Linked DNA regions of Homo sapiens: regions 1 and 2 are each reported to be linked to region 3. The links are microRNA targets in miRTarBase. Many come from high-throughput screens and were not tested one by one. Region 3 holds a microRNA gene; each other region holds the end of a gene's coding sequence.
The links. The annotated mature microRNA hsa-miR-515-5p reads UUCUCCAAAAGAAAGCACUUUCUG and lies in region 3 at 1,520-1,543, shown strand. An mRNA with a match to its seed (bases 2 to 7 or 8) in the 3' UTR can be bound and repressed. Matches are read on the target gene's strand: a 7mer-m8 pairs with bases 2 to 8, a 7mer-A1 pairs with bases 2 to 7 and ends in A, and an 8mer does both.

Region 1 (3,000 bases), not on the chromosome of region 3:
ACCTCTGCCTCCTGGGTTCAAGCGATTCTCCCACCTCAGCCTCGCACTACAGGTGTGAGTCACAATGGCCAGCTAATTTTTGTATTTTTTTTTTTTTTTTTTGGTAGACACAGCGTTTCGACATGTTGCCCCAGGCTGGTCTTGAACTCCTGAGCTCAAGCAGTCCTCCTGCCTCAGCCTCCCAAGGTGCTGGGATTATAGGCATGAGCCACTGTATCCAGCCTAAATGTTCCTCTTTTTATAAGGATAGCCGTCATATTGGATTAGGGCCCACACTAACGACCTCATTCTACCTTGGTTACCCCTGGAAGAACCCTATCTCCAAATGCAGTCACATTCTGAGGTACTGTGGGTCAGGACACTGATATATCTCTTTGGGGACACAACTCATAACACCAATAGAATCACCATTGAGGGCTGTTCTTCCTTAGGGGCCTCAGGCTGCTGGGGAGCCCTGGGCAGGGTGGGGGCAGAGGGACCCACACAAGAGCAGAGACTGCTCTTCCTGGGCAGGCCGGGTCTCTGGGCAGAGGTGAACATCCGGGGGGCTCTTCATGAGGGCAGGGCACCATCCAGGTTGGGGACTGGCACTGGTCACCGGCACAGGACATGGTAGCCACTGGGGCAGGTGAATGTGTTGGCAGCAAGGGCAGTGCCCCCAGCCGGGAGCCTGTTGTCCTGACTCAGAGGACACGTATGGGATGTGGGGCCTCAGTTTCTCCTCAGGCCTGGGGGTGCAGCCTGGGTCGCAGCTGGGAAACTCTTCTGAGTTCAAAGTGAGCCATGGAAGGCTCTGAGCCCAGCAAAGTGGTCTGGGCAAGAAGGGGAAGAGACGGGGAGGCCCCTGCTCCTCCCTAGGTGGACTCACATCATGTCACAATCAGGCTGGGAAGCCCTGGCGCAGGTCCACACCCACCCTGCACTCTCATGGGTCTGAAAAGGCCAAGTTAGGGGTTGGGTGCAGAGGCTTAGAAAAGTCTAGGTCTCAGCATTGGATATCCGGGACCCCCTTATACTCGGCCAGGCTCAGGGATGAAGCTCCTTAGAGCTGGCCCCAAACCAGGAGCTCCTGGGGCTGAGACAGATGCAGACCTGCTCTCCTGCCCCTCCTACCATCCCCTGGCCCCCATCATCCAACAGAAGTCCAGGCCAGCCTGCCTCCCGCTCCAGTGGGGCCTCCATTGCGACCTGATAGACCTGTATGGGTGGCTGGCCCCATAATCAGCATCTACCACATCCCACGCGCATGGGGTCTCTCACAGCGGCCCCTGCCCATGGACAGATGGACTGACCCACAGGCATCCACATGTGGTGCTGAAGAAGCCGTGAGGAAAGGGGGAGGTGGGAAGGGCCTCGTCCAGGGTGTCTGGCTGCACAGGAGACATAGCAGCTCCCACTGGCACCCTGCATACAAGGGAAAGGCCTCGAAATGCGCTCACCAAAGCCTCAGAGTTTTATTATCAGGAGCTCACATTCAGGTACAGATTCCTATGAAGTTTGCCTCACCTGGAGGGAAGAGGGAGAGAGCAGGGCTGGCTGAGATGGGGCTGCCAGAGGCATGGTCTCCAGCTGGGTAAGCGGGATTCTGAGAGCCCCTGGTGCACACGGAGCCTCCTGGCACACACAGGATTGTCTCAAACACAGAGGACCTCTGGCACACTCAAGGGCACTGAATCTAGCAATGAGTCTGCACTTCTGTTATGAGAGTGGGTTTTTCGGCCAGGCGTGGTGGCTCACGCCTGTAATCCCAGCACTTTGGGAGGCCGAGGCAGGTGGATCACCACGTCAGGAGTTCAAGACCAGCCTGACCAACATGGTGAAACCCCGTCTCTACTAAAAACACAAAAATTAGCTGGGCATGGTGGCACACGCCTGTAATCCCAGCTAATCAGGAGGCTGGGGCAGGAGAATTGCTTGAACTTGGGAGGCGGAGGTTGCAGTGAGCCGAGATCGTGCCACTGCACTCCAGCCTGGGTGACAGAGCAAGACTCCGTCTCAAAAAAAAAAAAAAGAGAGAGTGGGTTTTTCTCAGGTCTTCTCGGTGCCCAATTCCAAATGTGGCTGTCTCCTCTGCAGGAGCAGGTCTGCTTGTCAAGAGTCCAAGCACGCCTGTGTTCTGTGGCCACAGGAGAGGAGGGGCCGCTTTTAAATACAAGCCTACTCCTGTCGTTGGACCAGAACAAAGACCTACTGGCCAGAAGCACATGAGAGGTGAGAGTCGCCCTTCTGCCTTGTTCGGCATCGTGTGTGTGCACCTGTGTGTGTGTGTCTGTGCAACTGTGCATGTGTGCACATGTGTAGCACACCTGTGCACGTACATGTGCCTGTGTCGGTGTCCATGTATATGGCTTGCATGTGTGTGCTTGTGCACACGCAGGAGTGTATGTGTGTGCCATGTGAGTGCCTGTGTACATGTGCAAGAGTGGGCTCAGGTGTATCCACATGTTCATGGTATACCTCGGCCGGTCCTAGACCTAGTATCAGACTCTGCTGCTCCTCACTGGCATAAAGGCAGACCCTGAACTGGGCATGGGGACACAGATGGGTAACACGCAAACCACAGGGCCCTGATCCGGGGGATGCTGGCCAAGCCACGGGCAGTGCAATGCAGTATGGCAAAGGAAGGTTTCCTGTCCACAGTGCCCCTCAAGGCAGGGCCCCCCAGGAGCCCACTGGCCAGGCCCAGAGGTGGGGTTAGCTCTGCAGTGTGAACTCATAGGTTCTGGTCTCCCAGTGGGAGAGGTCCTTGTCCATCATGCTACGCTCAGTGAAGGTCACGTGGCCGTCCGCATCTACCAGGATGATAGTGTTGGTTCTGAAAGAGAGCAGGGGCCCTCGTTCACCTGGTGTCCCTCAGCCCTGCCCTGCCTGTCACAGCCACAAATAGGGCAAGAATGCAGGCAGGTAGAGTTAGGAACCCCATGCCTGGAGGCTGTGCCAAGTCACAGAGAGCAGCAGCCTCAGTCTTGGGGATGATGAGGGGCCATCAGTGGCGTGTGA
Region 2 (3,000 bases), not on the chromosome of region 3:
TGGTGGCATGCGCCTGTAGTCCCAGCTACTCAGGAGGCTGAGGCAGGAGAATCGCTTGAACCTGGGAGGTGGAGGTTGCAGTGAGCTGAGATGACACCACTGCACTCTAACTTGGGCAACAGAGTGAGACGCTGCCTCAAAAAAAAAAAAAAAAAATGTGGCGCAGGGAAAGGGGGAACTGAGAGCTACTGCTGGATGAGAGGATGCCAGGAAGTCCAAGGGTGTTAAGAGGAGCAGCAGGCCAGGTGCAGTGGCTCAAGCCTGTAATTCCAGCACTTTGGGAGGCTGAGGCAGGTGGATCACCTGAGGTCAGGAGTTCAAGACCAGCCTGACCAACATGGTGAAACCCTGTCTCTACTAAAAATACAAAAATTATCCAGGTGTGGTGGTATACCCCCGTAATCCCAGCTACTCGGGAGGCTGAGGCAGGAGAATCACTTGAACCTGGGAGGTGGAGGTTGCAGTGAGCCAAGATCACACCATTGCACTCCAGCCTGGGTGACAGAGCGAGACTCCGTCTCAAAAAAAAAGAGGAGCAGCAGAATGCGGCTGGTACCTCTTTTCCCCTCCACTGGCATCACAAACCAAAGGGACCATTTGCTTTCCCCAGACCTCACACAACTTCTGGCCATGAGAAGCAGCTCAGTAAATGTCAGCTGCAATCATAAGTGGTGTTTGTCCTCCGGAAGCCCCAGGTGAGTGTCCACAGTTCCCTGGGACCCTGGAGGGGCTCCGTGGCCTGCTCCTGCTGCCTGCCCTGATGTCCCCTAACACAGTCCTGGAAACGAGGGGTGCCTGGTGACTTCCAGCCTCCTCTTACGTGTTTAGTTCTGAAAGCCGCAGTTACTCCATCCCAGAAGGCACCAGCTGCTCTCTGGCCATATCTTACAGAAGGGGCAGTACAACACTGGCTTGATATTCATCTATGAACCAATTTAATTTTAATTTAAAAATGACTTCTGATCTGGCAGATGATTTGGGTTCTAGAAAGAAATTGTGCCAGGCATGGTGGCTCATGCCTGTAATCCCAGCACTTTGGGAGGCTGAGGTGGGAGAAACCTGTGAGCTCAGGAATTGGAGACCAGCCTGGGCAACGTAGCAAGACTTCATTTCTACAATAATAATAATAAAAAAAGGCCAGGTGCGGTGGTTCACACCTGTAATCCCAGCACTTTGGGAGGCCACGAGACAGGTGGATCATGAGGTCAGGAGTTCGAGACCAGCCTGGCCAACGTGGTGAAACCCTGCCTCTACTAAAAACACAAAAATTAGCTAGGCGTGGTGGCGGGAGGCTGTAATCCCAGCTACTAGGGAGGTTGAGGCAGGAGAATCACTTGAATCTGGAAGGCAGAAGTTGCAGTGAGCCGAGGTCACACCATTGCACTCCAGCCTGGGCAACAAGAGCGAAACTCTGTCTCAAAAAAAAAAAAAAAAGGGCCGGGCATGGTGGCTCATGCCTGTAATCCCAGCACTTTAGGAGGCCGAGACGGGTGGATCATGAGGTCAGGAGTTCAAGACCAGCCTGACCAACGTAGTGAAACCCAGTCTCTACTAAATATACAAAAAAAATGAGCTGGGCGTGGTAGTGAGTGCCAGTAGTCCCAGCTACTTGGGAGGCTGAGGCAGGAGAATTGCTTGAACCCAGGAGGTGGAGGTTGAGGTTGCAGTGAGCCGAGATCATGCCACTGCATTCCAGCCTGAGTGACAGAGTGAGACTCAGTCTCAAAAAAAAAAAAAAAAAAAAAGAACAGGCATGGTGGCTCATGCCTGTAATCCCAGCACTTTGGGAAGCCAAGGTGGGCAGATCACCTGAGCTCAGGAGTTCAAGATCAGCCTGAGCAACATGGTGAAACCTTGTCTCTACAAAAAATACAAAAATTAGCCAGGAGTGGTGGCGTGTGTCTGTAGTCCCAGCCACTTGGGAGACTGAGGTGGGAGAACCTCTTGAACCCAGGAGGTAGAGGTTGCAGTGAGCCAAGATCCCACCACTATACTCCAGCTTGGGTGACAGAGTATGACCCTGTCTCAAAAAAAAAAAAAAAAAAAAGAAAGAAAAAAAATTGCAGGTGTCTTCCCCTATCCCAAGAGGGTGGCCAAGTCAGCCCTGCTAGAATAGAGTGAATTCCAGTTCCATCTCTATCAGACAGTTCCTGACCATTTGGCAAGATGGTACTTCTGGTATTTCTGCTAAAAGGCTTCGCTCCCCAAAGTGAAGACCTGAGGTGTGAATGTCAGGAACAAAATGATAGCAGCATTCTGGTTTCTCATTGCAGGCTTTCGTTCCATTCTCCCTGCCTGAGCTGTTTCAAACTGTTCCAGAATGTTCCAAACAGCCTCTTCTCTCTCTTGCTGTTTTGCCTTCCTCCTTTCCTTCACTACCCTCTTCTTCAAGCAAGAAACAAAATTCAGTAGAAAGCAGCAGAAGCTCTAGGGAGACAGAAAAGTGAAAGGGGAGAAGAGTACACTTCGTCCTCCCTCTCCTAGCCTGAAGTCCTGCCTTCTCCAGGAGTCAAGAGTCAGTGAAAACAATGGTGCTGGTTTTCCTGAGAGTCAGCAGCTATGACCTGTGGTGTGAGTCAAGGGAGAAGTGTGGCCCATCCAGACTGGGAGGATTAGGGGTGAGCGGCAAGTCCACGCTGGGGTCTAAAGCGCCACTGGGGCAACACTACGGTATCCTGGCTACCTTTGGTTTCAGAGGCGGCCTCTTTGGTGGGTGCAACTGGCTTTGCAAACATCTTAGCAAGTGCAGTGGGTCTTTTCACTTGGACCCTGGGCCATAAGAACGGGGCTGGAGTCCAGGGGGAGGCCGTTCAGGGCACTCTCCCCATATAGGTGCAGGCTGTTGCGCGCGATCAGCTCCTTGGCCATGAGCACGAAGACTTCTTCTATGTTCTTTGACTCCTTGGCAGATGTCTCCAAAACGGCCAGGAGGCCGTACTTCTCAGCCAGTGTGCAGGCATCCTCGAACAGGACGTGCCGCTTTTCCCAGAGGTCACATTT
Region 3 (3,348 bases):
CACCCAGACTAAACTGGGCTGTGCTCCTATGCGTACCCTAGTAGCTGGGACTTCAGGTGAATATTAACCCATGCATAGGCAAGGAGAGAGGAAGGCTCTGACAGTCTGTGATCTCCCCTCACTGCAACCTCCACCCTCTGGACTGGGAACGTCAGGGCACTGCACCGATGCAGGCAGGATGAGCCGAGGGGAAAGGAGAGCCAGGCATCACTGGCTGGGGACATTTTGGGTTTGATCTGGATGGAGCAGGTGTCTCCTGGAGAGAGAGCCCCTGGGATTTTCACTCTGCTCCCTGGCTGTCTTAGTCATGGAATCTGACAACAGAGACTCCTGCCCAGGGCCACTTCATTTGGTTTCTGGACCCCAGTGGTCCTTCCTGCCTGGACTTAGGATCTTTTGGGGAAGTTTGGGATCTGGCAGGGCATCTGCATAATCCATAGAAATCCCTGAGAGTCACTTCCCTTGGCTGACATCTCCATGTTCCTACCCATTACCTTCCAAAGGAGACCCTTAACTGAATTACCAAAGGGGGCTTCCCAGAGCAGGGAAACCCGGTTAACTTTCTATTTCAGGTCAACAGTATACTTGAGATGTACTTGAACTAGAAATGATTGGTTGTTTAGGTGTGGGCATTTGTTTTTCCTAACTTAGTCTCCAAGAAAAAAAATTATTGAGGTTTTACAGCCTAGCCTGTGGTCTATCCTGAAGAATGTTCGTGTGTGTGACAATGTACATTCTTTTTTTCCCCCCAGCTCTGTCAAATCTTACTGAGGAGCTTTTACGGCCTAGCCTGTGGTCTGTCCTGGAGGGTATTTGTGTGTACAACAATGTATATTCTTAAACATTATCTTAGATTCCATTTTGGATGTTCCCATCAGGACTGTGTGTTTCTGTGCTGGAACTCAAGTGAACACTGGCTCAACATCCTTAGAAATCCAGCCCAATTCTCTTGGTTAAAGATAAGGTATGTGTGGTAGGCATTGCTTTTTCTCTTTGGGGACAAAACTCAGGAGGATTGCCCCTTGATGAACAAGGCTAACCTGCTAAGCCTTTGAAGCAAGGAACTGGAGATGGTCCTTTCAGGGGTTTATGTTCTGGATTCCATAAAACATGCAAACAGGGGCAATGAATGCACCTTTTTTATTTTTATTTTTATTTTTTTTTGAGATGGAGTCTTACTCTTGCCAGTCTGGAGTGCAGTGGCACGATCTCGGCTCACTGCAACTTCTGCCTCCTGGTTCAAGTAATTCCCCTGCCTCAGCCTCCCGAGTAGCTGGGACTACAGGTACATGCCACCACAGGCGGCAAATGGTTGTATTTTTAGTAGAGACGGAGTTTCACCATGTTGGCCAGGATGGTCGTGGTCTCTTGACCAGCCTCCCAAAGTGTTGGGATTCCAGGCGTGAGCCACCGCGCCTGGCCAATGAATGCATCTTTATTTTTGTGTTCATTTTAATCTGGTAAGGTAAATTCCAACAAAAAACCCAGAGTTTTGGAGTGAGAAGATCTCATGCAGTCATTCTCCAAAAGAAAGCACTTTCTGTTGTCTGAAAGCAGAGTGCCTTCTTTTGGAGCGTTACTGTTTGAGAAAAACCACGTTGAAGTTGATGCTGATCTTGGTAACACATTTGCAGAGCGTGCTTATCATCAGACTTGCATGATGTTGGGGTTCTGTTTTTGTTTAGTTTTTTTGCAACACAGGGTCTCTTGCCCAGGCTGGAGTGCGGTGACACTTCCAACCTAGACCTCTTGGGCTCAGTTGGTCCCTGCCCCCACCCCCTCCCCCTTTTTTTTCTCTTGAGACAGTCTCTCTCTGTGGCCCAGGCTGGAGTGCAGTGGTATGTTCTCTGCTCACTGCAACCTCTGCCTCCCGAGTAGCTGGTATTACAGGCACATGCCACCACGCCTGGCTAATTTTTGTATTTTTAGCAGAGACGGAGTTTCATCATGATGGCCAGATTAGTCTTGAACTCCTGACCTTAGGTGATCCACCTGCCTCGGCCTCGCAAAGTGCTGGGATTACAGGCATGAGCCACTGTGCCTGGCCCACAACGTATATTCTTAAATATCATCTTAGATTCCATTTTGGTTGCTCCCATCGGGACTGTGTGTCCCTGTGCTGGAACTCAAGTGAACACATGGCTCAAAATCCATTGCTGTTCTCTAGAAATCCAGCCCAATTCTCTTGGTTAAATATAAGGTATGTGTGGTAGGCTTTGCTTTTTCTCTTTGGAGACAATACTCAGGAGGGTTGCCCCTTCGTGAACAAGGCTAACCTGCTGAGCCTTTGAAGCAAGGAACTGGAGATGGTCCTTTTAGGGGTTTATGTTCTGGATTCCAGAAAACATGCAAACAGGGACAATGAATGCATCTTTATTTTTGTGTCCATTTTAACCTGGTAAGGAAAATTCCAACAAAAACCCAGAGTTTTGGAGCGAGAAGATCTCATGCAGTCATTCTCCAAAAGGGAGCACTTTCTGTTTGAAAGAAAACAAAGTGCCTCCTTTTAGAGTGTTACTGTTTGAGAAAAACCACGTTGAAGTTGATGCTGATCTTGGTAACGCATTTGCAGAGCGTGCTTATCATCAGACTTGCATGATGTTGGGGTTCTGTTTTTGTTTAGTTTTTTTGCAACACAGGGTTTCTGTTGCCCGGGCAGGAGTGCGGTGGCGCTTCCAACCTAGACCTCTTAGGCTAGTTGGTCCCCCCTACTTTTTTTGTTGTTTTTGTTCTTGAGACAGAGTCTCACTATGTGGGCCAGGCGGGCAGGCAGTGACACATTCTCTGCTCACTGCAACCTCGGCCTCCCAAGTAGCTGGTATTATAGGCACGTGCCACCACGCCTGGCTAATTTTTGTATTTTTAGCAGAGATGGAGTTTCACCACATTGGCCAGGTTAGTCTTGAACTCCTGACCTCAGGTGATCTGCCCGCCTCTGCTTTCCAAAGTGGTGGGATTACAGGCATGAGCCACCCTGCTCGGACTGCAGGGTGTTTTTTTTTTTTTTTTTAATTATTATTTGTATTTTTTTGTGCTGCCAAAGCAAGCACTTGTGTGTAGGAATTTTGTTTGTTTGTTTGTTTGTTTGTTTGAGATGGAGTCTCATTCTTGTCGCCCAGGCTGGAGTGCAGTGGCATGATCTCGGCTCACTGCAACCTACGCCTTCCGGGTTCAAGCGATTCTCCTGCCTCAGCCTCCTGAGTAGCTGGGATTTCAGGTGCATGCCGCCACCCCGGCTAATTTTTGTCCTTTTGGTAGAATCGGGGTTTTGCCATGTTGGTCCGGCTGGTCTCAAACTCCTGACCTCAACTAATCCACCTGCCTCGGCCTCCCAAACTGCTGGGATTA

Region 1: the mRNA of TANGO2 is a reported target of hsa-miR-515-5p. Seed matches in the 3' UTR shown: 7mer-m8 at 319-325.
Region 2: the mRNA of RAB19 is a reported target of hsa-miR-515-5p. Seed matches in the 3' UTR shown: 7mer-A1 at 2,499-2,505.

What each region holds. Positions count from the first base shown.
Region 1 is chr22:20,064,357-20,067,356 of GRCh38, reverse strand. It overlaps TANGO2 (transport and golgi organization 2 homolog), which reads right to left. Exons shown (of 9, transcript NM_152906.7): 9 at 193-2,815. The coding sequence ends at 2,695. Among named protein-coding and RNA genes, the nearest start is that of DGCR8, 14 kb to the left of the region's middle. RefSeq lists an enhancer at 749-1,249.
Region 2 is chr7:140,425,887-140,428,886 of GRCh38, reverse strand. RAB19 (RAB19, member RAS oncogene family) reads right to left here. Exons shown (of 4, transcript NM_001008749.3): 4 at 913-3,000. The coding sequence ends at 2,737. Among named protein-coding and RNA genes, the nearest start is that of RAB19, 23 kb to the right of the region's middle.
Region 3 is chr19:53,677,497-53,680,844 of GRCh38, forward strand. MIR515-1 (microRNA 515-1) reads left to right here and starts at 1,507; the gene lies at 1,507-1,589. It overlaps MIR519E (microRNA 519e), which reads left to right and starts at 2,444; the gene lies at 2,444-2,527. The region is part of intron 2 of LOC107985342 (a long non-coding RNA gene); the gene reads left to right. RefSeq lists an enhancer at 199-699.